Regions from separate parts of the Homo sapiens genome. Here region 2 is linked to region 1. The links come from fine-mapping of genetic effects on gene expression. A gene starts in region 1. The other region holds a variant in brackets. All regions are shown on one strand. Distances are from middle to middle.

Region 1 (14,914 bases):
ATTCAGGGCCTGAGACTCCCCCAAGTAGCCAGCAGAACAGAGCCCGGCCAGGGGTGGTGGCGGGGGTGTGTGGGGAGCACTGGAGAAGCTCCTTTTTTTCTGTGTCTCTCTGGCTGATTGGATGGTTTTCCAAAAAGAAAAATTTTAATGTGTTTTCGGTTTGGTTTTTTTTTTTTTTTTTTTTTTTTGAGACAGGGTCTCACTCTGTCATCCAGGCTGGAGTGCAGTGGTGCGATCACAGCTCACTGCAGCCTCAACCTCTGTGCTCCAGCGGTCCTCTACCTCAGCCTCCGGAGTAGCTGGCACTACAGGTGCGCACCATCACACCTGGCTAATTTTTTGTATTTTTCATAGAGACCGGGTTTTGCCGTGTTGCCCAGGCTGGTCTCAAACTCCTGAGCTCAAGCGATCCTGCCACCTTGGCCTCCCAAATGCTGGGATTACCGGCATAAGCCATTGCTGCTTAGCCAGCACTCAGCCTCAAATGCCCCCACAACTTCCTCCAGCAGCCCCACAATCTCCTGCCCCTTATGGGTGGGGAACCCTGGCATGTCATGTGACGGGGGTGGAGTCAGGAGAGCTGCTGTCCTTCCTGACCCATTGGGACAAGTCTGTGCAGCTGAGTCCCAGGGATAAGGGTAGGACCCACAGCCAAGTGACCAGTTCCAGAAATAGAGATGGTCATTGTGGTGCTCAAGGCACCCCTGCCTTCTTCCTGGGTTCAAGCCTGGAGCTCAAGATTGGAGTTCAAGGTTGCAGAGAGCTTTAGAACTGCTAATGGGGGCCAGGCGCAGTGGCCCACGCCTGGCCAACATGGGTGAAACCCTATCGCAACTAAAAATACAAAAATTATCCAGACAGCCGGGCACGGTGGCTCACGCCTGTAATCCTAGCACTTTGGGAGGCCAAGGCAGGTGGATCATCGAGGTCAGGAGTTCGAGACCAGCCTGGCCAACATGGTGAAACCATATCTCTACTAAAAATATAAAAATTAGCTGGGCGTGATGGTGGGCGCCTATAATCCCAGCTACTCAGGAGGCTGAGGCAGGAGAATTGCTTGAACCCAGGAGACTGAGGTTGCAGTGAGCCGACAGGGTGCCACTGCCCTCCAGCCTGGGCGACAGAGTGAGACTCTGTCTCAAAAAAAAAAAAAAAAAAAAAGAACTGCTGGCCGGGCACGGTGGCTCACACCTGTAATCAGCACTTTGGGAGGCCAAGGTGGGCGGATCATGAGGTCAGGAGATCGAGACCATCCTGGCTAACACGGTGAAACCCCACCTCTACTAAAAATACAAAAAATTAGCCGGGCGTGGTGACGGGTCCGTGTAGTTCCAGCTACTTGGGAGGCTGAGGCAGGAGAGTGGCGTGAACCCGGGAGACAGAGCTTGCAGTGAGCCGAGATAGCGCCATTGCACTCCAGCCTGGGCGACAGAGCAAGACTCTGTCTCAAAAAAAAAAAAAAAAAAAAGAACTGCTAATGGGTATGGGGATTTTTTATGAGGTAATGGAAATGTTCTGGAATGCGACAGCAGTGATGGTTACGCAACCTCTTGAATATGCTAAAATCCATTGAATTGTACACTTTAAAAGGGTAAATTTATAATATGTGAATTGCATTTCAATAACACAAAACAAAAATAAACCAAAAAAAATTGCCCTACTTAAACACTTTCTGTTGTCCCCTGTTCATTACCCTTAGGACAGAGCACACACACACTTCCCTGGGACGTGGTTCAGCTTCTTCCTCCACCCAGCCTGCCCTGCCCGTACCCTTTCCTGCCCTTCCTCCTTTCCTCCTACAGAAGGGCCCTGCTGGGGCCTCTTTCAAGGTCCAGGCTCTGGCGCATGAAACTCCCTCTACCTGTCAGATGGTTAAATGCCTATTCAGTTTTTATCTGTGGCAATAAGTAGGCATTGATCTCATTTCACAGATGAGGAAACTGAGCCTTAAAAAGATATAACAACTCGCCCAAAGTCACCTAGCTGGCAGATGGTGCAGTTGAGATTCAGGCCCCAGCAGTGGCTTCAGAATCCATGATCTGAACCACTTTGGTTGGTGGCTTTCTGTGGTAGCCTGAAGAATCCCACCCTCGCCAAGATATCCACATCCTAATCCTGGAACCTGTGAATGTTACCTTATATGACAAAGGCGCCGCAGATGTGATTAAGGATCTGGAGATGAGGAGGTTATCCTGGATCATTACAATCACAAACGCCCTTATAAAGGGGGATGCAGAGGGAGATTACAGACCAAAGGCAGAAGGTGGTGTGATGATGGAAGCAGAGAAAGAGGTCTGAAGATGGTACGCCGCTGGTTTTGAACATGGAAGAAGAGGCCACAGCCGGGGAACAGAGCCCCAGAAGCAGGAGAGGGCAAGGAAACGGATACTCCTCAAAGCTTCTGGAGGGAACGTGGCCCTGTGAACACCCTGGTTTCTGCCTGTTGAAACTGATTCTGAATTTCCGGTCTTGAGAACTGTAAGAAAATAAATGTGTGTCGTGTTGTGGGTTTTTAAAAAATAATTTTTTTCTTTCTTTTTTCTCCCGGCTTTTCAATAGGGATAACGTGTGTTGTTTTAAGTCACCAGGTTTGTGGTGATTAGTTACAGCAGCCATAGAAAATGAAGACACTGGCCAGGCTCACGCCTGTAATCCCAGCACTTTGGGAGGCTGAGGGCAGGTGGATCACCTGAAGTCAGGAGTTTGAGACCAGCCTGGCCAACATGGCGAAACCTGTCTCTACTAAAAATAGAAAAATTAGCTGGGTGTAGTGGTGCATGCCTGTAGTCCCAGTACTCAGGAGGCTGAGGCAGGAGAATCGCTTGAACCTGGGAGATGGCGGTTGCAATGAGCCAAGATTGCGCCATTGCACTCCAGCCTGGGCGACAGAGCAAGACTCCGTCTCAAGGAAAAAAAAAGAAAAGAAAATGAAGACACTTTCCCTCCTAGAAGAGCCTATTCTGCCTCCCAGGCTGGGCCCCTCTCTGAGAGGCTCTTCTGCCCCGAGGTCAGTGGCCCACCCTGTTTTGTGCTCCTTGGGGATGCTTCCTATGACCTCTGACCCTGGAGCTTGCCTCGGTCATGACCTCCATGCTCACCCTGACCTTGGGCCTCTTCTACGGCTCCCAGCACTGACTTCACCAGGCTGGAGTCATCTTCCAGTTGTTCAGGGGCAGGCACCAGCTCTGGGGCAGTGTGGAAGAGGAAAGTGAGGCTTGGAGGGGGGCACTGAATGCTCAAGATCACTCAGCTGGCAAGAGGCAGAGCCGCTGAATGTGTGGCCATGAGATGACCAGGGCACCCAAGCCGAAGGGCTCGTGAGGAAAGAGGCCACACTGGCTGCCCACTGCCCCTAGGTTCCAATCCCGGCACCCATCTGGGCCCACATAGAATTGGACCATTCCTGGTGGGCTTGGCTTTAGGAAAACCTGATAGCAAATTCCAAACCAATAAGAGCAAATAAATGAGGGGTGATTACCGACAATAAGAGAGGATACACTGCAGGGTGCCTCCAAATCGCATCTCCTCCAGTACGTTTTAAGTGCTTTATAGGTCATTAACTACTTGACAGAGAGAGCCTGACACTTAAAGCAAAGAATTTGGTACCTCTGCCAGGGAAAATCAATCAGAAATGAAGCTAGAGCATCAGAGGCGTTAAGATTTACTGGGTAGGCCAACGGGATTCAATTGACGCAGAATTTTAAGACCCTCTCCACTGTGTAAAGTAAGGCACACTGGTATTTGAAGCCATTTATAAATCCCAAACTAGAATTTAGAAACACTTAACCTCTCCCCTGCCATTTTTGTGTGTGTGTGGATGTTAATGAAATATTTCGAAGACATGGAAAAGTACAGAGATAAGCTTAAGCATCTAAGTCCCCCATCTGACTCTGTCAAATGAAATATTGCAGCTATGTGCAGCTATGATTGAAGCACCCACTATTTTTTTTTTTTTTTTTTTTGAGATGGAGTCTCTGTCTGTCGCCTGGGCTGGAGTGCAATGGTGCAATCTTGGCTCACTGCAACCGCAGCCTCCCAGGTTCAAGCGATTCTCTTGCCTCAGCCTCTCAAGTAGCTGGGACTACAGGTGCGTGCCACCATACCCAGCTAATTTTTGTATTTTTAGTAGAGACAGGGTTTCACCATGTTGGCCAGGCTGGTCTCGAACTCCTGAGCTCAGGTGATCCACCCACATCGGCCTCCCAGAGCGCTGGGATTACAGGTGTGAGCCACTGTGCGCAGCCAACAGGTGCACCTCTAGAAAGAGGGTGCTTCGGATGGGCACAGTGGCTCATGCCTGTGGTCCCAGCACTTTGGGAGGCTGAGGAGGGAGGATCACCTGAGGTCAGGAGCTCGAGACCAGCCTGGCCAACATAGTGAAACCCTGTCTCTACTAAAAATACAAAAATGAGCTGGGTGTGGTGGTGCATGCCTGTAGTCTCAGCTACTAGGGAGGCTGAGGCAGGAGAATTGCTTGAACCCAGGAGGCGGAGGTTGCAGTGAGCGGAGATCGTGCCACTGCACTCCAGCCTGGCAGCAGAGTGAGACTCTGTCTAAAAAAAAAAAAATTGGTGGGGCATGGGGGCATGCACCTGTAGTCCCAGCTACTTGGGAGGCTGAAGCAGGAGAATCACTTGAACCTGGGAGGTGGAGGTTGCAGTGGACCAACATTGCACTACTGCACTCTAGCCTGAGAGACAGAGCGAGACTCCGTTTCAAAAAAAAAAAAAAAGTGCACCTGTTTTTTCTTCCTGGCTTTTCAAATCCTTTCTGTCTTCTGGCTCTGCCTTGTCAGGGAGACCTAAGCTGACCACCCACCCCTGCCCAAGACATCACTCCTTCCTCTGAAATCAGAGTGCAATTACTGCCTCTTTAATTAGCTTGGCAATTAATCACCAGCTGCTTATGAAACAGCTTTTATTGTCCTTGTCCATCTTGGGATGTGGGTGGGAATGAGGACCAGGCAGGAAGAGGGAGGAGGGGCAGGCAGGCAGGGCCCTGCTCTGGCACCAGGCTGGGCAGGGTCAGCTGAAAAGGCCTGATGTCCAGAGGGTCGGCTGCCTCCCAACTCTGTTTCCACAGCTGCTAGGCACCAGGATCTGTGTAGTCCCAAGAGAACAGTGGGCAGCGACAGGGACATCCACCTTGTGCAGCCCTGGGGCCTCTGCTCTCGATGTTCCCTACTAATCAAAATGTTCTTTCCTCATTGAGCCTTGTTGAACTGTGTCCCCCAGAAAGATATATTGAAGTCCTGACCGCCGATACCTGTGAATGCAACCTGATTAGGAAATAGGGTCTTTGCAAATGTAATCTTCTTAAGATGAGGTCATACCGGATTAGGATGGGGCCTAAATCTAATGACTGATGTCCCTATAAGAAGGCCATGTGAAGACAGATGCAGGGAGCACTCATTCACCACACCACCAAGCCAGCTCCTCCTCTTCATGCCTCAATCTGGCTGCCTATGGGAGACAGGCTCTCAGCATTTTTCTAGTTGATTAACCCTTCTCTGCCCAACTCCGGGAGAAGCTTCTACACCTTCCTTTGTCAGAGGAAGCCCTCTCCCCCATCCCATCTCATACATCATCTCTCAATCAAAAGGACCTACTTGGGGGGGCATCCCAAGGACCCCCTCTCCATCAGAGAACAGCAGCCGGGAAGTCAGTCTGCTTCACGGTGCTCCCCATGACTTCCACAGGAAAATCCACCCCAAATGCCCCAAACTGTCAGAGTGGGCAATGCAGCATGGTTTGAGCAGAGTGCTTCCAACTTCCCCTGTGATGGGGGTGCAGAGGGGGGTTCAGGGGATGGATTCCCAGGAAGGGAAAGAGCCCAGCAGGTTACCAGGAATTTAACATGGAAGCAGAGGCTGTGTCATTCATACTGCCAAGCACAGTGCTGGGTATAGCATGTTCAAGCATGTTCATTTAAATGACACTTTTTTTTTTTGAGACAGAGTTTCGCTCTTATCACCCAGGCTGGAGTGCCAGTGGCATGACCTCAGCTCACTACAACCTCTGCCTCCTGGGTTCAAGTGATTCTCCTGCCCCAGCCTCCCGAGTAGCTGGGATTACAGGTGCCCACCAGCATGCTCAGCTAATTTTTGTATTTTTTAGTAGAGATGGGGTTTCATGATGTTGGCCAGGCTGGTCTCGAACTCCTGACCTCAGGTGATCCACCCACCTCGGCTTCCCAAAGTGCTGGGATTACAGGCGTGAGCCACTGTGCCCGGCCGAAGTAAGTTTTTTTGTTTTTGTTTTTGTTTTGTTTTGAGATGGAGTCTCACTCTGTCACCCAGGCTGGAATGCAGTGGTGCCATCTCGGCTTACTGCAAGCTCCGCCTCCCGGGTTCACGCCATTCTCTTGCCTCAGCTTCCCGAGTAGCTAGCTGGGACTACAGGTGCCCACCACCACGCCAGGCTAATTTTTTGTATTTTTAGTAGAGACGGGTTTTTTTTTTTTTCTGTCACCCAGGCTGGAGTGCAAGTGGTACAATCATAACACTGCAGCTTCCAACTCCTGGGCTCAAGTGATCCTCCCACCTCAGCCTCCCAAGTAGCTGGGAGTACAGGTGCACACCACCATGCCCAGAAAACTTCTTAATTTTTTTTTTGTAGAGACGGGGTTTCGCCATGTTGCCCAGGCTGGTTTCGAACTCCTGGGCGCAAGCGCTTCTCCCACCCTGGCCTCCCAAAGTGCTAGAATTATAGGCGTGAGCCACAGGACCTGGCAGTAATAACCCATCTTCTAACCTATCTTGTGCTCTAACACAACACTCTTGATAGACGGGAAACTGAGCTCTGACACTGCACAGGGCATCACTGTGTAGAGGATCCGAGATCCAGTAATGTAAGCATGTCCCAGCATCAGCTCAGCCATTCATCCCCACGTGACCGAATTTCGCTGCACCTCGGTTTCCTCATCCTCGGGAGAGAATAGTAATATCTCCTAGGGATGTTGCCAACATTAAAGATAGCTCTAAACACCTGTATGCATATTTTCCACGAATTCATTCAACTAACCGTTTTGAGCACGTACTGTGTGCTAGGCCCTGGGGAGACAGTGGTGAGCAGCACGAACCCCATGTCCCTATCTCCAGGTGCTGTTTGGTAGAGAAGGACAAGGAAATGCAGGTAGCGTTATGATAGGGACCACGGAAGCAGAGAGGAAAAGGCCGCAGAGTTCAGGAAGGTCCGAAAGAGCAGCGGCCACCGCCGGAGCGAAAAGGCAAAGAATGAAATCCACAAACCCCCACCCCTACGGCCTTAGTCCCTTCTTTGTCTCAGCCAATCAGACGTCAGCAGTGCTGGCCGACCGACCAATCAAGAGCTGGAACAGGAGCCCTAGTCTCAGGCCCGGTTTCCGCGGGGAGGGCGGCCGGAACCAGCGCGCCCCGCCCCTGCCCCGACCACGCCCCGCCCGCCCCGGTCCGGCCCCTCCCCAGACCACGCCCCGCTGCAGCCAGCTTCGCCCGCCCAGAGCCCCGTGGCCAGCGGCCGGCCGCGGGGCCTTTTTGTCCTGAGGGCCAGAGAAAGGGAGAAGGGGGTGGGGGGACAGCCACGTGGCCGCAGGAGGATTTACAACATTTTCTTTCGCCATCGATGTTATCGCAAAATGTGTGAGAGAAGCGGCTGCGCAGCCCGGACGGGAGCGTGAGGGTGCGGGCCAGGTAAGCAGCCCCGGCGGTTTCGCCGCATACGGGACTGCGGGGCGACCGCGGGCACCAGCCACGCGCAGCGGCTCCGCGGGGTCTCGGCCGGGTCCGCGCTCTGAAGGATCTCGAGAGCCATGGATGGTGCAGGCGGGACCCTCGAGCTGCAGCATCTCCGGTGACCCGGGGTTGCCGAGGAGGTGGAGACCAGCACAGGTGGTCCGGCCCGGGCGCCTCCGAATCCGGGGGTGGTCAAGACGGATCCCCAAGGCTGAGGTCGGCAGTCCCGGGGACTCGCAGCTGTTGAGCCTGTGGAGACGCGGCCCCGTGACCGAGGCACCCTTCAGCAACCCGGGGGCAGGTGAGACCGTGTAGACTTGCGCTTGCGGTTGAACCGCGAGCAGGTGTAGACGCGGGCGGGTTCTGGACGCGGAAAGTTTGCCAGAGCGCGCTGAGCGGGCTGGCGGGGAGGAAGGGTCTGGGCGTAGGCGGAGCCGCGCCTCCGAGGGGCCAGGCGCACATCTGGGGCGGGGACGGGACCCACCTGTCGGGTCTCAGCCGCATCCCAGGGCGGAAGCTCCTTGGGCGAACTCCAAACTCCAGCCTCAGCGGCTGGAATTCGGGTGCCCCCCTTCCTCGGGAGCTGGAGAAACTGCAGCTGAGGCGGGAGAGGGATTTGGGGCGACAGAGCGAGACCAAAGGGGGCTCATTTTGAGACTTTTAGACGGGATCATCAAGCGCTCACTCTGTCCCTGGCTCCGGGGAAGCCTGGGGAGTCTCCACCTCACTTGTGAGGAAGCTGAGGGACGAAGAGGCCAATTTGGCACCCGTCCCACGCTCGTAATCAGACCCAGGGACTCAAACCCCATTTGTCCTGGCTCCTCTTCTTCCACCTCCGCCTCAGTGAGGAGAAAGGGTGCTAGCCATGGGGGTAGTGCAGGTGAGACCTGGGGCTGGGATGCAGGGAAGCCCTGGATTGAGACCTTCGGATCTGCTGGGGGTGGATCCCACTCCCTCTCTGTAGCTCCAGGTGGCCCCGCAGCACTGGGTGAGAGAATGAACGCAGGAGGGAAGCTGGTGGCAGAGTACTGGGCAGGGGGTGCTAGTGCCCACCTGCTTTGTGTCCGGGGTGCTGTGCCTGGAGCGCTTCGGGTGGGGCAGCGTATTTATGCGACACTCTCTCCTCTAGGGTAAGAAAGACACCCTACCACAGTCTCTGCCACAGGGGAAGGGCAGAAGGGTTTCCCTTGGCTGGAGGAGATACCCGCATTTCTAGGGAGGTTCTTAGGGAGGCACAGCCTCATCTCCCATCACCTTCTGTCCCTTTGCCCCCGTTCCTACTCCCACATCCTCCTGTCCTGGGATTTCCCCTACTACAAAGCCTTTTGCACATGTTGTTTATTCTTTTGATCAGCAAATAGTTACAAATAGGCAGTGTAGACCACCACAGGTGGTCCGGCACACCTACTAAGTGCCGGGCATGCGCAATTCAGCAGTGACTAAGACAGGCCCGGCCTCTGCCCTCATAGGGCTTCCAGACCAGGGCAGGGATATAGATGAACAACAGACAGTCAAGAAGGGGACCAGGGTATGGGGAGGGGAGGCGACCTTAGGAGGATATCAGAGAGGGACTCTGCAAGGATGACAGTGAGTCAGAGCAATTAACACTCCTCATCCTTTGGGCCCCAGCACAAATGTCACCTCCTCCAGGAAGCCTGCCCTGACCTCCCTGACTTGATGATTCCACTATGATGGACTCTCATAGCATGGGACCACCCCCTCCATGGACACTTTTATGCCATTAATTGGTCAATGTTTAGCTCCCCCTGTCGATTGTAAGTGCCATGAGGGCAGGACCCAAATCTTTTCTGGGTGGATGGTAGGCAAAGCAAATAAAAGATGGGTAGGATTTCCCCAGAAAAACAGGAGTGGCTCAGCAAGGTCAGGCATCCAGATGGCAGAAACTTTTCTTTCCCCTTCCCTGGCCCGAGTCCTGGGCTCCACACCCCATTTGCCGTTCACAGAAACAAAGTAAAAGAAACCAGCAGGCCTTGTGAAGGGAGAGGCCTGGCACAGCCTGACCACTGCAGTGCCAAGGCTGGCTGGCTGCAGGGAGAGTGGACCTGCCAGGGGAGGCCCAGGGCAGGCGCTAGTCCTGTTCCCTGAGCTCAGACCGACCTGTCTCCTCTTTCTTCTGTCCCATCTCTTGGAGACTTGTCTTCTTCAAGTGCTGCTCTGGGAGAAGGTGGTGGCCGACAGGGCCCCCAGAGTAGCTGGGATATAGGACCACAGTGACTGCCTGGCCTCCCCCATCCTGGTGGGCAGGGCCCTGGGCAGCACAGCTCTGACCCAGAGTCAGGTCTCTGGGCCAGCAATTGCTGCTCAGTTGACCCACGGCACATTGAAACTCTCACTTGGAAATTAGGAACCCGGCTCAGGGGGACTGATTTTTTTTTTTTTTTTTTTTTTTTTGCATGGTTTCTATACACAGTGAATCCTCCCTCCCCTGGCTCCATTGGACCCGTGTGCCTGGCACTTTTCCTGGGGCAGATGAAGCCCTCGCAGATGCCTAACAAAGCTTTTCTCCAGTCTCCCACACCCCCCACTGCCCCACTTCAGGAGCTCTGAGTGGCCGCCACGCACAGCTAGAGAGACAGTCAACTTGCTTTATTCAGGCTCTGGCGGGGACAGAATAAAAGCAGCCTCCCCACCCACCCACCTGGCCAGCAAGCCTCCTGCCTGGAATGGCTTTAAAAAAATTAATTTGCAATGATTTGCTCCCTTCTGTTCTGTGGGGATCACCAGCATTTTAAATATGTATTTAGATCAGATTCACAACTCCCAGTTAAACCTCAACTGCCTGCCCCCACCCGGCAGAAAGAACACAGGATTCAGAATCAGGTGACTAGAAGTTCAGGCCAAGTTCTGCTAATGATGCGCTGTGTGGCCTTGGGCAAATTACTTAAGCTCTCTGTGCCTCCACTGGCTCCTCTGGAAACTGAGGTTAAGGATAACCCCTCCCTCACAGAGTGCTGCGAGGATTAAATTAGGTAAGTTTAGGGAAGACCTGGGCAGTGCCAGACCTATGTTTTCTTTTCCCTTGTACTGACTGTCCTGCTAATTAGCCTGGTGACCCTGGGCAGGCCACTCAGCCACCCCTGGCCTCAATGTCCTCATCTGTAAAGGCTGGGGGTGGGGATTGTGGTAGGAGATGAGGGCACAAATACCCCACCCTCAGCCCCTTCCGCACACCCACTTCCTCCTGCCCTCTCCCCACCAGAGACGATACTGTCCCCCTCAACCACTTCTTTCTTGTTATCTGAGCACTGGGTTTTAATTGGCGATGGCCCCTCCCCAGCTGCCTCTCCTCCCGGCTCCCTGTGAAGTCTCAGGCTTGCAGCCCTGAGGGGCCTGCAGTTCCTGGCTCATTGTCAGGGGCAATTAGCTGTGATGTCACAAGCCTAGGTGGTGACTTCCGTGGGGCAGATGCTTAGCCAGGCACCAGGAGGCCAGGACCCTGCTCCATCTGTGACCTGCGGGGCTCCCCCAGGCTCCAGGGGTCCCCATTACCAGTCGCAGGGAGGCAGGGCTCCTAGGCAAAGCCATTTCCATTTCTGCACTTGATGGCTCCTTGAAGCCCAGCCTGCGTGTAAATGAGTTCCACCCTGTGCTTTTGTTGGCAACTGTCGGCTCCCTGGAAGCAAGGGGCTTTGTCAGGAAGAACAAAGCTGTGCGGTGTTTTTCTGATTTGGGGGAAAGCGTGCTCCTGGGGGAGGGCTCAGCGCTTCTCAGTGTCGGTCTCCAGCCCTGGTTCTCAGACTTGCTGGTTTTGTTTTGGGTTCTTAAGTCCTATGGCTTAAGAGTCACATATGTTTGTGTGTGTGTTGGCTGAGGGTTTTTTTTTTTTTTTCCTCCTTTTTGGCTTACATAGCGTTCCAGAGACTGAACTTCTCAAATCACTGCTTCAACAGCTTTTAAAAATCTGGACCTAGTTACTCCTGTCATCTATGTGTAAAGATTTAGAAAAAAAATCCCAAACCCAAGGGTGGGCAGCCGCGAGGATGTACAGCTCCTGGCAGTGTGCGCTCACCCGGAGACCTGAGGTCAAAGCCCAAATGCTGAGCACCTCCTGGGAGGCGGGAGCATGGTCTGCTCAGTGCCAGACATCTGGATATTGAGAAAACATCTGGGTAGCTGGGGTTTTCAGGTTTCTGCCTGACATTTAATATCACAAACATTGAGCCTGCTCCTGTCCCCCACCAGCCACGCGGCTTCTCCTCCCAAACATACCCAGCTCCTTCCCCTGCCTTCCTGACGGGTAAGAAACATCCATTCTTTCCAATTCCCCAGCGTTTTCCCCCTACCGGAAATCTGATGGGCTTATGACATCATGGCTGGCTGCTGAGCGATGAAGTGGATGCCACAAAGAAATCCGACATATCAGATAGATTCTGAAATCGGTTTCCCTCCAGCTGTAGTAACAGGCGTGAAGTCAGGAGAATTTGAGCTTTGTTTAAAAAATAAATAAATAAATAAATAAACCATAACAAAGTCTTGCCCTGTATTAAATGCAATTTTCTTAAAAACAAGCAAACCTTTTGGACATCATTTTATTTTAATAGAAATGCTGAGTTTTATGAAACTAAAGTGGCTAATAAATCAGACCTGAAGCTTTGTGTGAGTGTTCCATTTCTGTTGAGTGTTTGTGTCCTTATTCACTAATAAAAGAGGAGCTAGGAATGGTTTATCTCTCTTCATTATTCAAATGAGATAGCCTTTTTTTTTTTTTTAGGCCAATAAAATTCACAGGGTAAATTGCTGGTTTATGTTTTTCCAGGAATCCATTTTTATGGAGCGACCCTGGACCTCACCGGTCTGCAGACACTATATTCCCCTTTGCTGGTTTTCCTGGCTGTGAAGCCCTTAAGAGAATGCAGTAAAGCTTTTCAGTCTCCTGGCTGGGCTCAGGGGATAACTGGCTGTCAGCAGGGCGGGACCAAGACCAGTGGGCCAGGCGCTTCTTGGAATGAGAAGCCTCTTTGAAAGGAGAGAGTCAAGAGAGGAACAGAAGTAAAGGGACCTGGGGCTGGGCGCGGTGGCTCATGCCTATAGTCCCAGCAATTTGGGAGGCCAAGAGGGCAGATCACCTGAGGTCAGGAGTTCAAGACCAGCCTGGCCAACATGGCGAAACCCCATCTCTACTAAAAATACAAAAAATTAGCCAGGAGTGGTGGTGCACGCCTGTAACCCCAGCTACTTGGGAGGCTGAGATAGGAGAACTGCTTGAACACGGGAGGCAGAGGTTCCAGTGAGCCGAGATCGCGCCACTGCACTCCAGCCTGGGTGACAGAGCAAGACTCCATCTCAAAAAAAAAAAAAAAAAGAAGAAGAAGAAGAAGAAAAAGTAAAGGGACCTGGGACATGAAGCCTAGGGGCCTGGGAGGGGGAATCCATTTTCTTCCTCCTCAAAAGACAGCAAGGACCTCAGAAATAACTCCAGGCTGAGGGGGCCTCAGTATTCACCTCGGAAATAGGCTTGGGTGCAAGATTGCATGTGTCGTGCCTGCCAAGCACCCAGCACAGGGACGTCCCAGACCTGGGCTGAGGTCCCAGCTGCTCCAGAAGCAAACTTCGGGGCCCTGAGCAAGTCACACCACCTTTCAGCTTCTTTCCCTGAAAGTGGACACAATGGCCCCCACCCTGCCTGTTGGGAGAACAGTAGTGCTGGATGTGTCACACAATGCCCAGCTCTGAGGGCATCCGAGGCTCTGAGGGCACCTCAAAGGGCTCCGAGGCCATTCTCATAGCTGGGAGAGGCCAGTGTGGATTCTGGAGTTGAATCCCCAGCCTGGGCTTGACTCCTGGCTCTGTCCCCTGCTATCTGCAAGACGACATTGATCTGTGTGACATTCGCTGTGCCTTGGTGTCCTCACTTGTCAAACAATAATAATAATAGGACCGGCCTCACACATGAGGCTGCTGTGAGGATGAACGGCCTCAGAAGGCCTGGACTGACCAAGCATTAGCCGCATGAGTGTGTCCTGGGCCCAGGAGGCAGGTTGCTGGCTAGGACCCTCCGGCCTAGGATGGGAGGGAGTGTACCAAGTCGAGCACAGGCGGAGGCTAATCAAGGACTGACAGGAACATCTACTCCTTTCTCTGCAGAACTTCCCATGACTCCAATCGCCCAAAGGGAATAAAATCCCCTCGTTTTCTGGGCCCCAGGCTCCTGTCCCCCAGGCCTCCTGTGCTGTTCCCCTCTCCCTCCCTGTGCTCTGTCCCTCCTCCCAGGCAGCTTTGGATGCAATGCTAACAGGCAGGTGATGTTTACTGAGCACCTGCCATCATGTTGTTCGCCACAGTTTCCATGGATTAATTCATTTGATCCCCACACAAACCCATGAAAGGGGACAGTTAGCATTCCTGTCAGCAATGGAGACCTCAGAGGTTAAGTGTCTTGCTCACAGTCCCAGAGCCCAAATTGAAACCAGGGTTCGGCTCCTGCACCGTCCACTTCACCTCGGCTCCACTGGGCCTTCCTCCTCCACTTTCTCGCCTTCCCACAACACCCATCTCCACCTGCCAAGATTTCCACCACCTCGCCCAAGAGGTCTTCCCAGCTTCCCCTCCACAGTGCCACCCAAGAAATGCTGGTGGTGCCCCACGTGCCCCTCAGGGTGTGGCTCTCTATGATTGGCCCTGGGCCCCTTGTCTGCCTCTCCTGGAGGCTGGGAGCTGGGCTGTGGCCAGTAATGTGTCCCCTGCAGGCCCAATAAGCAGGCATTTACTGAGGACCTACTATGTGCAGGACATGGGGAGTCATACAGCAGGTGCCCACACCGCCTGGACTTCTCTCCCAAAACCTAGACCTATCCAGCCAACAGCTTGTGCCACCTCTCCACGTGGATGGCCAGTGGGCAGCTCTGCCTCAACTAGTCACAAACCTCTCACCTCCACTTTCCCTTCACTTGCTCAGGCCAAAAGCCTTGGGATTATTCCTGACCCTTAACTTCTCCTCTGTCTCTATCTCAGCACTCCACCCTTCCTTCCACCTCCACCGCACCACCGGCATTGCCTGCCTGGATGGCACAGCAGCCTCCTCGTGGGTCTCCCTGCCTCCTCTGCCCTCTGGAATTCATTCTTCACATAGTAGCAGAGTGGTCCTGTTAGAACTTCAGTCAGCTCCTGCATGCCTCTGCCCAGAGCTCTGCAATGACTCCCATGCATTCAGGGTCAGGGAGGGCCCTGTCAGTGGCCCCAGCT
Region 2 (14,914 bases), 40 kb before region 1:
ACTTGTTGGCCATCTGGTGGTGAAAATTTGTGAGGCCCACCAGGGTTCTGACAAACCTCTTATTAGCATCTGATGGCTACTGTGCCCAGTGCCAATGTGAGCACCCCCTGCCATATCTGATGACAGCTTCCCAGCCTGGGTGCTGGCTCTTCTTCCTCAACACAGCCAGACCAACTGGGGTCCGAAGCCTGGCCCCACCACTCATGATCTCTGTGGTTTTGGGCCTTTAAGATCCTCTGCTTTTTGGTTTTGGTTTTGAGATGGGATTTCACTATGTGCTCAGGCTGGTCTCAAACTCCTGGGCTCAAGCGATCCTCCTGCTTCGACTTCCTGAGTAGCTGGAACTACAGGCGTGTGCCACCACTCCTAGCTAGACCCGCTCCAGAACGCGGTTGCAATAGTTGCCGCCTAGGATCGTCGTGGTGTTTAATTGACATAGGACCTGTGTCACACCAAGCCAGGATACAATTCCTGTAATTTTTCTTTTCCTTCTGTCTGTGGGTTCCTACTTCTGGGTCATGGACACCCTCTAGACCCCCGGGCCACAAACCCTGCACCCCAACCTCATCCCAGGCAAACTCAATGCTCCCCATACCAGCCCTTCTGCCTCAGGCTCTTTCTGCTCCTTCCCTTTTGGACTGGGGATGTTGCCACGGCAGGGAGCCCCTCCTGGTCTGGGACAGGGCCTGTGACCTAACTGGTACCCCTTCAATGTTTGTGGGAGGCACAAACAAATGACAGCTGAAAAGAATTTGTGGACTTGGAAATGACCGTGAAACCTATCAGCACTGTGCCTTCACGGGGGACCGCTTCTAGTTGGCAGCCAACTAGGGCCTAGACCTCTACAGCCTACACCCCTGAAGGGGCCTCTGGGAGGCACGGGTCCAGGAGATGGGGTGGGAGCTGGGCAGTTGCAGGATTCCAGCTCTGGGGTGCTGATGCCCCATTGAAAGGAAGGTGCAGGCCGGGCGCGGTGGCTCACGCCTGTAATCCCAGCACTTTGGGAGGCCGAGGTGGGCAGATCACGAGGTCAGGAGATTGAGACCATTCTGGCTAACACGGTGAAACCCCGTCTCTACTAAAAATACAAAAAATTAGCCAGGCATGGTGGCGGGTGCCTGTGGTCCCAGCTGCTCGGAAGGCTGAGGCAGGAGAATGGCGTGAACCCAGGAGGTAGAGTTTGCAGTGAGCTGAGATCGCGCCATCGCACTCCAGCCTGGGCGACAGAGCGAGACTCCATCTCAAAAAAAAAAAAAAAAAAAAAAAGAAAGAAAGAAAGAAAGGAAGGTGTAGGTGCAGGGGAGGTGGTGAGCTACATTCGCAGGCCAGAACCCAGAGGTCTTGGCTGTAACTGCGGACCTCCTCTCCTCCCCCGGGTTTTTTGGCCTGACGTCTCCAGACTGGACGTTGTTATTGACTGAGCTCGTCAGAGACGGCTTCCTCTCTTTACTTTTTGGACACAGCAGTTTCATCAGAGGTCTGAGGTTCTCGTTTCGAAGCCTCTCCTCGCTGTGGCTGATCTAAGCCAGAGCAGTGCATTGTCATGAGCCTAACTCGGTGACCTTAAAGAAATGAATCCCAAAAGAATATAGAACAACGGACGTCTGTTTTTATAGATTTCCCTGGAATTGTAAAGATCGGCTTAATTGCAGTAGCAGAGTTCATCATTTTCTAGAAGGATACCTCAGACAGGGAGAATTTTTAAAGAAATTGGTCTGAAGTCTTCCTGCCCAGGACAAGCAGGAAGGTTTCATGGTGCTGACAGTGTATCTGCCCTCCCCCTGGAGTGGCCTCTTAGATACACTGTGAGGAGGAGCAGGAGGCCCCGGGTGAGGATATGGAGGTCACAGGTCGAGGGGGCCACAGGGTAGGTACACAGAGGGGGCAGTGGCCTGTGAGTGCTGTGCAGGGCTGCTGGGCAGGGTCGGTGGTGATGTCATTTGTGGTTCACTCTACCCCTCTTGTCTCTAAAAAAAAATTTTTTTAATTTAAAAAAAAAAAAATTTGATGCCCAGGCTGGCCTTGAACTCCTGGCTTCAAGAGGTCCTTCTGCTTTGGCTCCTGAGTAGCTGGGATTACAGACACGCGCCACCATCCCAGCCCACCTGGGTCCCTGGGGGACAATATAACAGCCCCCATCTCTATATGCCTACCCTGCCCCTGTCCCATCTCGGATAAGTCCGTGCCCTGAAGCAAGGCTCTTAGTTTTATGACAAAATGAATGTAATGTTATCATTAAACAGCAGCAATCCTGCAGTAGAGTCCGGAGATACAAAGTCCAGGGTAAAATCCCCCCTGCTCCGTCCACCAGAGGGGAGCCCTGGAGGGGGCCCGGGTGCCAGCTCCCTGGAATGACATTTCACAAGCGAGTGTCGTTATGTCAATTACAAGTCGAACCCACTGTGACTGCCGACATGTGAGTCGATTCCCTGGAACTGTGAGTGCCTTTAGTTCTTTGAGGGAGGGTGTGTCTCTCTTTTTCTTTCTTTCTTCTTTTTGTTTTTTTTGAGACGAAGTCTTGCTCTGTCATTCAGGCTGGAGTGCAGTGGCGCGATCTTGGCTCACTGCAACCTCCACCTCCCAGATTCAAGCGATTTTCCTGCCTCAGCCTCCTGAGTAGCTGGGATTACAGGTGCCCACCACCACACCTGGCTAATATTTTTATTTTTAGTAGAGACGGGGTTTTGCCATGTTGGCCAAACTGATCTTGAACTCCTGACCTCAAGAGATCTGCCCACCTTGGCTTCCCAAAGTGCTGGGATTACGGGCATGAGCCAACAGCCCTGGCCAAATTTTTGTTGTTGTTGTTATTATTGTTGTTATATAGATGAGGGCTTTCTGTGTTGTCCAGGCTGGTCTCAAATGCCTGGCCTTGCCTTCTTATGTGACAGGACAACAGGCCTGAGCCACCGCGGCTCCTGATTTTTTTTTCTTTTTTTGTATTTTTAGTAGAGGCGGGGTTTCACCATGTTAGCCAGGCTGGTCTCGAACTCCAGGCCTCAAGCAATCCACCCGCCTCGGCCTCCCAAAGTGCTAGGATTACAGGCATGAGCCACCCTGCCCAGCCTGGGGGTGTCTCTTTAGTGGCTCAACAGGAAGCTCAAAATATCAGCATTGCCAGAATTTTGAGGGATTAACTGACGCACAGGGCCAACTCCATCTCTGTTCCCGCATCTTCCAGAAGGCTGGCCTCCCTTTGGGACCCCCTTCCCAGAGCTCTGGCTCAGAGCTGAACTGAAGAGACCTGGGAAGAGATGAGCCTGGCCTCCCTCCAGCCCCACACCACAGGCAGGGCCCACACCTCTCTTTCCCCAATAAAATAAATCTTGCGGCTCCTCTGAGCATCTCAAAGACACGATCTTCTCCCGATTAACAATCCGGCCTGCATGTTCTTGGCTGCTGGCTGCCGACCTCAATTTAGAACTGTCTGCTGCTCAGCTGCTGGAGAAGGAGGGGCCTGGAGAACCCAGGAGCGCTAAAGCCGAGGGGCCTGTGCAGCTGAAGTCTGGGGCAGGGGGCGGCTGCTGCCCCCAGCCCAGGATCCAAACAGCATCTCAGAGGCCTGCAGCAGGGGTTAGAGCCCCCCAGGCAGGGCTGCTGCTTTGGGAATTTTCAAACTGTTTTCTGAGGTGCCTCTGATGAGTGGGGGGAGGGGTGGCTCCTACAAAACTGGCTTTGTCATGGTCATTGACATCATGATCACAGCCGAAATGGCCCCACGTGGAGCACCTCTGCGTTGTTGGAAAAACTGCTCTCAGGATGTTGCCTGTTATACTGTAAAAAACCTGACAAATCCTCTCCGAGCCCAGAGTCCGGGAGAGGTTTGTGTCTCCCGCTGCCTGAATGCCTCCTTACTTTGGCACGGGGAGAACTGTGGGCAGACCTGCCTCCCTCTCTGTCTACCGCCAGGAAACGCTTGGGTTTCTTTATTTTGTTTTCCTGCCTCCTTCTTTATTTCTCATCCATCACCAGCTTTCTCTCTTCTCAGGCCTGTGCTTTGATCCCAGGTGGCCTCTTGGCCTTTGGGAAGAAGAGGGGTTGGGAGCGCAGGCTCTGGTGTTCCCCAGCCCTGGATGGGGTTGTAGCTCCACTCTCTACCTGCTGAGGAATCTGGAGCTAAGTGCTTCAACTCCCTGACCCTCAGACTCTTCTTCTTCATAAAACAGGGGCTCTCACTTTGCCTTGGGGTATATTAGGAGAGGTAGAGTGGTGTGCGTAATATGCTTGGCACAACTCCGGCACACAGCAAGTGCAGGAGAGGTAGGGGCTGCACCTGCAGAGGTAAGCTCACACGATGCACGAGACTTGTCTTTCTTTTTTTTTTTTCTGAGACGGACTCTTGCTCTTGTCGCCCAGGCTAGAGTGCAGTGGCATGATCTCTGCTCACTGCAACCTCAGCCTCCCAGGTTCAAGCGATTCTCCTGCGTCAGTCTCCCGAGTAGCTGGGATTACAGGCATACACTACCACACCTGGCTAATCTTTGTATTTTTAATAGAGACAGGTTTTGCCATGTTGGCCAGGCTGGTCTCAAACTCCTGACCTCAGGTGATCGGCCCACCTTAGCCTCCCAAAGTGCTGGGGTTATGGGCATAAAAAAGTTAGCCTGGCTAATTTTTGTATTTTTAGTAGAGACGGGGTTTCACCATGTTGGCCAGGCTAGTCTTGAACTCCTGACCTCCAGTGATCCGCCTGCCTCGGCCTCCCAAAGTGTTGGAATTACAGGTGTGAGCCACCGCACCCGGTCGTGAGCCTTAACAGGCAAGTGGGTGGGACTGAGGCAGCCTCAAGTGACCTGTTGCTCTCTCCCTTTGCTTCCCCTCCAGGAGGACAGTCAGTGACCCACACCGGCCTGCCCATCATGGCCTCCCTGGCCAACACAGCTATCTCCTTCAGCTGCAGGATCACCTATCCATACACTCCCCAATTCAAGGTTTTCACAGTCAGCTACTTTCATGAAGATCTCCAGGGACAGAGGAGCCCTAAGAAGCCAACAAACTGCCACCCTGGACTGGGCACAGAGAACCAGAGCCACACCCTGGACTGCCAGGTCACCCTTGTGCTGCCGGGAGCATCGGCCACTGGCACCTACTACTGCTCTGTCCACTGGCCACACTCCACGGTGAGAGGCAGCGGCACCTTCATCCTGGTCAGAGGTAAGGCTTCCTCTGTGGCTCTTCCAGGGCAAAGGACACAGAGGTTTCAAATGGCAGTTTGGGACTTTGGATCGGAAATAGAGAATGGGGCCAGGCGCAGTGGCTCACACATCCCAGCACTTTGGGAGGCTGAGGCGGGTGGATCACCTGAGGTCAGGGATTCGAGACCAGCCTGGCCAACATGGTGAAACCCCGTCTCTACTAAAAACACAAAAATTAGCTGGGCATGGTGGCAGGTGCCTGTAATCCCAGCTACTCAGGAGGCTGAGGCATAAGAATTTCTTGAACCCAGGATGGGAAGTTGCAGTGAGCCTAGATCGCACCATTGCACTCCAGCCTGGGTGACAAGAGCAAAACTCCATCTCAAAAAAAAAAAAAAAAAAAAAAGAAAAGAAAAGAAATAGAGAATGGTTTGCCTTGTCTACCAGCATTGGCAAAGCAGGCAGACCCACTTCAGGGAGCCCCGGCCTACGGCTGTGCCAGGGCTCCATCTGGGTGTGGAAAGGGCAGGGCCGGGCATGCAGATCTGCTCCTGAACGCCGCTGGCAGGTGACCTAAAAGAGCTCCCTTGGGCCCTTGGTCTCAGTGTGCCATGGGCATCATGGTGGGGGAACTTCTGCAGAACTAGGTATGTGCATGTATGTATTTGTGGGGGCCTCGTGTATGTGAGCACTTGGCTCATGTATAATACACCTTTCCAGAGACAGATCTTTAGTTTTCATCATGCTCTCTCTTTTTTTTTTTTTTTGAGACAGAGTCTCGCTCTGTCACCCAGGCTGAAGTGCACTGGCCCAATCTTGGCTCACTGCAATCTCTGCCTCCTGGGTTCAAGCGATTCTCATGCCTCAGCCTCCCAAGTACCTGGGATTACAGATGTCCACCACCACACCTGGCTACTTTTTGTATTTTTAATAGAGACAAGATTTCGCCATGTTGGCCAGGCTGGTCTCGAATCCTGACCTCAAGTGATCCGCCCACCTCAGCCTCCAAGAGTGTTGGGATTACAGGCATGAGCCAGCACACCCAGCCAGTTTTCATCACATTCTCAAAGGAGTGATGATCCCAAAAGTTATGAGTGAGCCCATCACCAAAGCCCTGATTCTCTGACCTACCTCTGCGATCCCCTGGAAGGAGCTGGGGGCTTCGGAATCCCATAGACCTGGGTTTGAACCTCTGTCCTGCTGCTTGCCCGATGTGATCTTGGGCCTGGTCTTCATGGCGATCCTCTGCCTTCCAAGGACTTGGATGAGGTTGAAGGAGATGGTGCCCATATGGGCTGGTGGCTGACAATAGGCAGTGCTGGGGAAATCATGCTCATGTGCCTGGCATGTGGTTGGCACTCCGTGTGTTTTTGCCAGTCGGATGGATGGATGGGGTGAGGGGAAGGAGGACTGGATGCCAGCAGGAGGGACTGGGGATGGCATGGGGTAGGAGGGCTGGGCCTCACCTAGCCTGGGTGCAGCCCCCTGTCAGTCCCAGGATAAA[T/C]CCGCCTCCTTCAGCCCTAGCCACATCCACCCGTATTATCACCACCTCACACAGGGAAAAGAAGAGGCCCCGAGAGGGGAGACATCTCGCTCAGGGCCCTACAAGCAGCCCACAGGGGAGCCAGGTCACGGGGGCAGGGGCACCGGAAGAGCAAATGGCCCCTGTCCTTACAGAGAAGCAAGGCAGTGAGCATGAAAAGGAGTGAGGGGACAATGAAGGCCCGAACCCTGGCTCCCAGGGGGCCTAGTGGGGTGTGGAGCGTGTTGGCGGGGTAGCATTGAAAACAGGGTCCTGAGTGAGGGAGAACATCAGGTGTGTGTGCCCCGCTTTCTCCTGGGTCACTGACCCCTCTGCTCCCCTGCGCTTCCTCCTAGACGCAGGGTACCGAGAGCCCCCGCAGAGTCCACAGAAGCTCCTGCTCTTTGGCTTCACCGGCCTCCTGAGTGTCCTGAGTGTAGTGGGCACGGCCCTGCTGCTCTGGAACAAGGTACGGGATCAGTGCTCACAGCCATGCAGCCCCTCCACCCGACACGCCACCGGCTGCCCGCCTGCCCTCTGCAGGGCGTTTGGTGGGCCCTGGTGAGGGCACATCCACATCTGTAACAGGTGGCCCTCGTGGCCCCTTGCACCAGGGCTGGGGGCATCCCTCCTGTGCCACTCCCTGTGCTGCCATGGGGTGCCTTTTGATCTTGTTGCAAGAAACCAGGGCTCTGCAGGCTTTCCCAGGTCCCATGTCCCTCTGAGAACCTGGGAGAGGCTGCAGGCCCTCCTGCCTACCATTTCTAGCTCCCCAGATTAGGGAATCCCTGCTCAGGTTTTCTTGATCCCAGCAGGCTGGAAGGGATGAAGGGGCTACCAGCCACTCACACAGGTGCTCTCCCACACACCCTCCCACTCGCCCTCTCGCACGCCCTCCAGCAACCCTCCCACACACCCTCCCACACACCCTCCCAAACACCCTCCAGCATAGCTCCATGACGAGGTTTTTTCCCATTTCACAGCTCTGGAAGGTCAGGCTCAGAGACGTTGTGATTTGCCCAGGGTCGCATAGTAAGTGTACTGCAGTCAGGGCTAGAGTGCAGGATGGGGTGGCTTGGTCCATTTCCTCACCTGGACGGCTCCTGCTCACACTGTGGGTGGCACCTGCCTGGGGAGGGAACCTCTCTGCTGGGGCTCCCCTCATGCTCATCATCACCCAGCCCTATGGATTCCTGTTCGATGCTGGCCCACCCTCCCTGCCTGGCAGCAAGTGCCAGGAGGCCAGAGGCCGAGGCAGTCTTGTTCAGGGGCTCCTTGCCCAGCACATGGTGGTGCTCAGACAGCATGCTGAGTGAAAGGATGCAGTGCCCAGCGGGTACCAGGTTCTCCCAGGCTCAGGGGTGCAAAGCTGATGGGTCAGGGCTCGTCAGAGGCTGCTGTTAGCAGCTCAGGCTACTGCTCCACCCTCCGGGGACCTTCGGGGCCAAGCCTGGGGGCAGCTGAGTCAGCAACAGCCCTGGGTGTGAGGCGTGAACACTGGCACCATCATTGGGGTCTCCCTGGGTCAAAAAAGGCTCAGCCCCTGCATCTGAAGGCCAAGACCCTACCCACACCCAGAGAAGAGCTCTCTTCCACGGGAATTTATGTGTTCATTCATTCAACAAACACTGAAAACCTACATTCCAGGCCCTGTTCTAGGCACCAGGGATACAGCAATGACCAAACTGAAATCAAGAAATCTCTATCTGAGGCTGAGCACGGTGGCTCATGCCTGTAATACCAGCACTTTGGGAGGCCGAGGTGGGTGGATCACTTGAGGTCAGGAGTTCGAGACCAGCCTGGCCAACATGGCAAAATCCCATCTCTACTAAAAATACAAAAATTAGCTGGGTGCATTGGCAGGTGCCTGTAATCCCAGAGGCTGAGGCAGGAGAATTGCTTGAACCTGCGAGGCGGAGGTTGTAGTGAGATTACACTACTGCACTTCAGCCTGGGTGACAAAGCAAGACTAAGTCTCAAAAAAAAAAAAAAAAAAAAAAGAGAAATCTGTCTGCCAGGTATGGTGGCTCACACCTGTAATTCCAGCACTTTAGAAGACTGAGGCAGGAGGATTTCCTGAGCTTAGGAGTTCAATATCAGCGTGGGTAACAGAGAGAGACCCCATCTCTACAAAACATTTTAAAAAATTAGCCAGTCATGGTAGCATGCACCTGTGGTCCTGGGCTACTTGGAAGGCTGAGGTGGAAGGATCGCTTGAGCCCAGGAGGTCAAAGCTGCAGTGAGCTGTGATCACACCACTGCACTCCAGCCTGAGCGACAGAGGGAGACCATCTCAAAAAAGAAAGAAAGTTTGAGACCAGCCTGACCCCCGTGGTGAAACCCCATCTCTACTAAAAATACAAAAACATTAGCCAGGTGTGGTGGTAGGCGCCTGTAATCCCAGCTACTTGGGAGGCTGAAGTGGGAGAATTGCTTGAACCCGGGAGGTGGAGGTTGCAGTGAGCTGAGATCACACCAGTGCACTCCAGCCTGGGCGACAGTCTCAAGAAAAATAAATAAAAGGCTGGGTGCGGTGGCTTATGCTTGTAATCCTGGCACTTTGGGAGGCCGAGACAGGCGGATCACTTGAGGCCAGGAGTTCAAGACTAGCTTGGCCAACATAGCAAAACCCCATCTCTACTAAAAATACAAAAACTAGCTGGGTATTGTGGCACATGCTTGTCATCCCAGCTACTCAGGAGGCTGAGGCAGGAGAATAGCTTGAACCCAGGAGGCAGAGATTTTAGTGAGTTGAGATGGCGCCACTGCACTCCAGCCCCTGGGCAACACAGCGAGACTCCATCTAAAAAAAAAAAAAAAAAGAGGAAGGTCCGGGTGCGGTGGCTCATGCCTGTAATCCCAGCACTTTGGGAGGCCGAGGCAGGCAGATCACAAGGTCAGGAGACCGAGACCATCCTGGCTAACACAGTGAAACCCTGTCTCTACTAAAGATACAAAAAATTAGCCGGGTGTGGTGGTCACACGCCTGTAGTCCCAGTTACTTAGAAGCCTGAGGCAAGAGAATCACCTAAACCTGGGAGGTGGAGGTTGCAGTGAGCCGAGATGGCACCACTGCACTCCAGCCTGGGCGACAGAGTGAGACTCTGTCTCAAAAAAAAAGGAAAAAGAAAAGAAAGGAAATCTGTTTTCATTAAATTGGCATTCCTGTTGAGGCGAGACCGACGATGCACCACCCAGTGAGTAGGTCGTATATATCAGATGGGATAATTATTGGGGGAAACTCAGCAATGTGAAGGGAGGTCGGCATGGGAATGGAGAAGCACCTGGAATGAGGGAGGCAGGTGCACATCAGGGCTGGGCGTGCCAGTGGGAGAATAGTGGATGCAGGTGCTCTGAGGCAGAAGCGGGCATGGGGTGTCCCAGGAGCTGCATGGGGGCCCATGTGGCTGGTGTAGCCTGAGCTCACAGAGAGTAGACGGATGGGAAGTGGAAGGAGATGCAGCCAGGTAGGGGGCATTGAAAGGACTTTAGCCCTTACTCTATGTGATACAAGGAAGGGGGTGAGATCAGACCTAGATTCTGATGGACCCTCTGTCTGAGTGAGGGACACCCAGTGAGGAGCTACTGCAAAGTCCAGGCAGAGATGACAGGAGCCGGGATCAGGGTGGCCTCAGGGAAGTGGTGAGCAAAGCAGATGAAAGGCTGGAAGCGGACCCAAAGGGACTCGCGCAAGTGGTTTGCTCTGCTCCCTCGGGGGGTGAGGCGCGAGCCGGGGGGTATTTGGATCTGCGCCTGCCCCGCAGGTGTCAGGTGAGCTGTGGACTGGAAGAGCAGGCGAGGAAGCTGAAGGTCAGAGCGTGCCTGAGCCAGAGCAAGTGGCAGGCCTGGGTCTGGAGCCCGTGCCTTAGTTTCCCATCCTTGTCTTGAGGCTGGGGATGTCATCGCTTTTCCAAGAAGGCTCTGAGGTACGAAAAAAGCATGAGCTTGGCGCCTTTCACCCCCGGGAGCCCCAGGGGCTGCATTTCCTGCCTTCTGTGAGCCAACGTCTGGGTCAGGGCCTCAGCCACGATGCTGGCTCCCCTCCTTCCCATGGGTCTGACACTGGCGCGAATGGTCCTACTTTGACCTTGCCCTGTTAATGAGCTTCAGGGTGAAGTGAGTCGCAGGCCTTGGGTACCACTGTGAAGTCCAGGAGGGCTCTGTGCTCCGCCTTGACTCCAGCCCAGCCAGAGGGATGAGCTGAGCCAAGAAGACCCGAGATGGGTGGGAAACACTTCCTTCAGCTTTCATGAGCCCAGGGTTAGGATGGAGACCCACTGGCTTCAGGCTGCCTCCCTCCCCAAGCCAGCACGAGTATGCACCTGCCATGTGCCCGGCCTGGGCCTTTCTTGCACGCCCCCGACTCTCGCCCTCAATATATGCCCTCCCTCCCTGCTTCGGCTTTTCCCATGATGATAGCAAGTAGGGTATCTCTCGATTTGTTCACTACCGAGCAGTCCCCAGGCACTCGAAATGAGGCCAGGGGAGGAGCTGGGGCGTGGACACAGAAACTGGGCTTCAGGCACAGGTGACAAGGGACTCCCCCCGCCTGCGGACCCCCACCCAGGCTTACAGGAGTGACCCACACAAGTGCCCTCTGTGTACACGAAACACAGTAGGCAAGGAACAGAACGGGGCCAGGCGAGATCTTAACCTTGAGCCCCCCATTTGCTGAGCAACGTCAGCTCCTGCCCTACAAAGATGGGACCGGACCGTAGAAACTGGATCACAGTATTAGTAAAGGAGGGGACAAAGCTCAGAGCCCTGGGCTTGAGTTCTGGTCCCTGCTCCCTCCCCTCCAGGATGGCCTCAGTGACTCCTGCCTTCCTCTTCCTCCTCTCACCACCCTGCCTGTGCTTCCAGGAATGTCTGCAAAGTGTCTCGTGTGTGCCATCACTAGGCTAAGTGCCAACAGGGTGAAAGCAAGCCCTCTTGTCAGGTTTGGATCCTCTCTGAGCCTCAGTTTCCTCCTCTGGAAATGGGATAAGGAGGGTAGACCCTGCCCACTAAGTGAACATGGAAGGAGAGCACTTTTTTTTTTTTTTTTTTTTGAGATGGAGTTTTACTCTTTGCCTAGGCTGGAGTACAATGGTGCGACCTTGACTCACTGCACCTCCGCCTCTCAGATTCAAGTGATTCTCCTGCCTCAGCCTCCCAAGTAGCTGGGATTACAGACGTGCGATACCACGCCTGGCTAATTTTGTATTTTTAGTAGAGACTGGGTTTCACCATGTTGGCCAGGCTGGTCTCAAACTCCTGACATCAGGAGATCTGCAGGAGAGCACTTCTGAAGCACCAGTTGGGTGCCTGACACACAGCAGAAGCTTTCTGCTGCCCACACACCCTCTGTACCTGGGGAGAACGGCTGATGTGAGAGCCTGGGCTGGAAGGGAAAGAGAACCCGGAGGCCAGAGCAGCTGCTGCGTTTGCATTGCTAAAGCAGCCCTGGGAGCCCCTGGTTCGCTGTGGATGCCCCTGATGGCAGCGGCAGGATGGGGTAAGGAGAGAGTCCAGGAGAAAGAGGCTCCCTCCAGGCACAGAGGACCCGGGAGCACCTGCAGTGGTGGATAAATGAATTGAAGCTGGAAACTACCAACCAGAAGTGGCAGAGGGTGGACCCGAACCGCGGTTGGCAGCTTTGGGGACAGTGAGGACAAAGAGCAGAGTGTGCGACTCCACTGGGGCAAGTCTGGAAGAATGGCATTGCCTCCCGGGGCAATGCCTGCACCTGACTTCTGCAAAGGCCAGCAGGGAGGGCACGGAGCTCACACCCCCGGGAAGATGGGAGCTGGAGGGTGGTAAGAACTGGTGATGCATGAAGTCTGCCCGGAGGGGCTGGGGCAGGAGGGATGGGGGTAGAGCCCAGGAATGGATGACCCACAGGTGGCACAGTCAGCCCTGCCCGCAGGCCCTTCAACAGCAGAGGCTTCCCAGGCCCTCCTTGTTCTCTGTATTTCGGCACCTGGGATCCCTCCCAGAGATCTCCTTCTTTGCTTTCTGGATCCAGCTCCCATGTACCCAGCTCAGAGAGGCCCTCTCTGACACCATGGCTTTCTTCCCTGACACCTCTTTTGCCTCTGCCCTCGTCATCTGTAGGTCCCCTGAGCTTACTCCATCTCTTCGTCAAGGCCAGCTGTGTGAGGCCGGGTGCCTCTCGGCCTGTTCCCTGCCCAAGCCCCAGCCTCTAGCACAGGTCCCCTGACATAGTAGGCCCTCAATAAACATTTGCTGAAGGGCTTACCATTTATAGGGCCCTTTCACACCTGTCATTAAATTCATTCATTCAGGCTGGGTACAGTGGCTCACGCCTATAATCCCAGCACTTTGGGAGGCTCAGGTTGGCTGATCACCTGAGGTCGGGAGTTCAAGACCAGCCTGGCCAACATGGCAAACCCCCACCTGTACTAAAAATACAAATTAGCCGAGAGGCGGAGGTTGCAATGAGCCGAGATTGCACCACTGCACTCCAGCCTGGGCGACAGAGCTGAGCACCTACTATGTGTCAGGCCCTGTACAGAGGCTGGGAACACAGCAAGCTAAACTCTTAGCTGGGGAGATCAGCTGTTATGCTGTCATGACCTGTTCAGGAAGAAAGGAAGTAGAAATCAGCAGGGGGCTTAAAAGCACAGAGTTGGGCCTTCGTTCAGTTCCAGCTCTGCCACTTACCAACCTCTGCGAGCTTGAGCTGGGTGCTCCAGGCTTCGGTTTCCCCAGTGGGGATGCCAAACAGAGGAGCTGTGTCATGGGGTTGTAGAAGGCACAGAGGGGGCCGGGCGTGGTGGCTCACGACTATAATCCCAACACTTTGGGAGTCCGAGGTGGGTGGTCACAAGGTCAGGAGTTCAAGATCAGCCTGGCCAAGATGGTGAAACCCTGTCTCTACTAAAAATACAAAAAAAAAATTAGCCGGGCATGGTGGTAGGCTCCTGTAATCCCAGTTACTCGGGAGGCTGAGGCAGAGAATTGCTTAAACCTGGGAGGCGGAGGATGCAGTGAGCCTGGATTGCGCTACTGCACTCCAGCCTGGGTGACAGAGCAAAACTCCATCTCAAAAAAAAAAAAAAAAAAAAAAGAAGGCACAGAGGGACCGGTGTGGGTCTGAGGCGCTTTGAGTACCAGGAGAGGTCTCTCTCTTGAGAAGGCAGCAATCGCCATGATTCCTGCCATGAGAGTAGGTTTGGGGGCTCCTGCCTGACTTGAGGGGTCAAAGTGGTGTTCCCAGAGCAGGCGCTCCCTGCGGCTGGCCCGTCCTCATCCTCATCCTCTCATGGCATTGGGCACAGCAGGCCTCCCGCCTCACAGCACACTCCGCCTCTTGGTACCAGGACAACATGCCCTCCTTGTTCTGTCCCACCCCATAGGCAGCTTTGCTGGGTCACCCCCCTCTTGGTGACCTCTAAATTCTGGCACATCCCGGGCCCCTTCCTCCGAGCCCTTCCGCGCTCTGTGTGTGCTCCTGCAGCAAAGTTTCTGCTCTGCGGGTGGCATTCCCTGTCCACAGATGCTGCTGCTCAGACCCCTCCCCAAGCTCCAGACCATGGTCCACAGCCCCACGTGGGGGCCTGAGGGTGCCGCCACCTCATGCGTCCAGAGCAGTGCTCAGTCCCCGAGTCCTCTGCGTCCCAGCACACGTGCTCCAGATGCTCAGGCCCAAGCCTTGGAGTTGTGCTCGGCTCTTCTCTCTCCCCACATCCATCCCTCAGCAAGCCCTGCACTCAGTCTGTCCCGGATCCAGCCCCTTCCCCGGGGCTTCCTAGGCGTCCCAGGCTGGGCTCCATCACCCTCTCCTGGAATATAGGTCTCTGCTGCCACACCCTGGCTTCTGTCACAACCTGGCGTCTGTCTTTATGCTGTCTGTCCTGCCATAGCATAGCCCCTGTAGGCGGGGGACTTAGTGTCCCCAGCACCTGGGGGAGCCTGGCACGCAGTGCATGCTTGTGGAAGGAATGACAGGATAAATGCATGCGAGGACCTGGAAGATAAGGCAGAAGTGGCCAGGATGTGAGGTGGGCAAGGCCACATTATTGCTCCCATTTTACAGAGCAGGAAGCTGAGGCCCAACAGGCTTCCTGAGCTGCTGATGGCAGCACCCCTGGTGTGCACAGCTGGATCTCAGCCCAGGCCTGGTGACTCCCTGTCCCACCACCATCTACTAGGGAGGGGAGACTTGGACCACAGAGAGCTGGGCGTGTTGGGAGAAGCCACACTCGTGATTCATCTGAAAATCACAGTTGAAAGGCAAATGTTGGCCCCGAGG

Direction of the effects. Positions count from the first base shown, and alleles are read on the strand shown. Sizes are in standard deviations (SD) of each study's normalised expression.
With allele T in place of C in region 2, the expression in cerebellum of the gene that starts at base 7,519 in region 1 is higher (small effect, 0.36 SD a copy in GTEx).

What was found. PIP is the estimated chance that this variant, and not a neighbour inherited with it, causes the effect.
Region 2: its variant is the best candidate, but not a certain one, in a credible set for the expression of LINC01315 in cerebellum (GTEx, PIP 0.87).

The regions. Positions count from the first base shown.
Region 1 is chr22:42,361,813-42,376,726 of GRCh38, reverse strand. It overlaps LINC01315 (long intergenic non-protein coding RNA 1315), which reads left to right and starts at 7,519. Exons shown (of 2, transcript NR_120597.1): 1 at 7,519-7,669; 2 at 12,002-12,327. It overlaps LOC124905126 (a long non-coding RNA gene), which reads right to left and starts at 7,235. Exons shown (of 2, transcript XR_007068114.1): 1 at 7,023-7,235; 2 at 4,901-5,265. RefSeq lists a silencer at 7,323-7,482 and enhancers at 7,190-7,484, 7,853-7,972, 8,265-9,199, 10,584-11,426, 12,937-13,590.
Region 2 is chr22:42,401,647-42,416,560 of GRCh38, reverse strand. It overlaps NFAM1 (NFAT activating protein with ITAM motif 1), which reads left to right. Exons shown (of 6, transcript NM_145912.8): 2 at 4,825-5,154; 3 at 7,014-7,126. Among named protein-coding and RNA genes, the nearest start is that of NFAM1, 23 kb to the left of the region's middle. The variant T/C (reference allele first, on the strand shown) is at 6,640.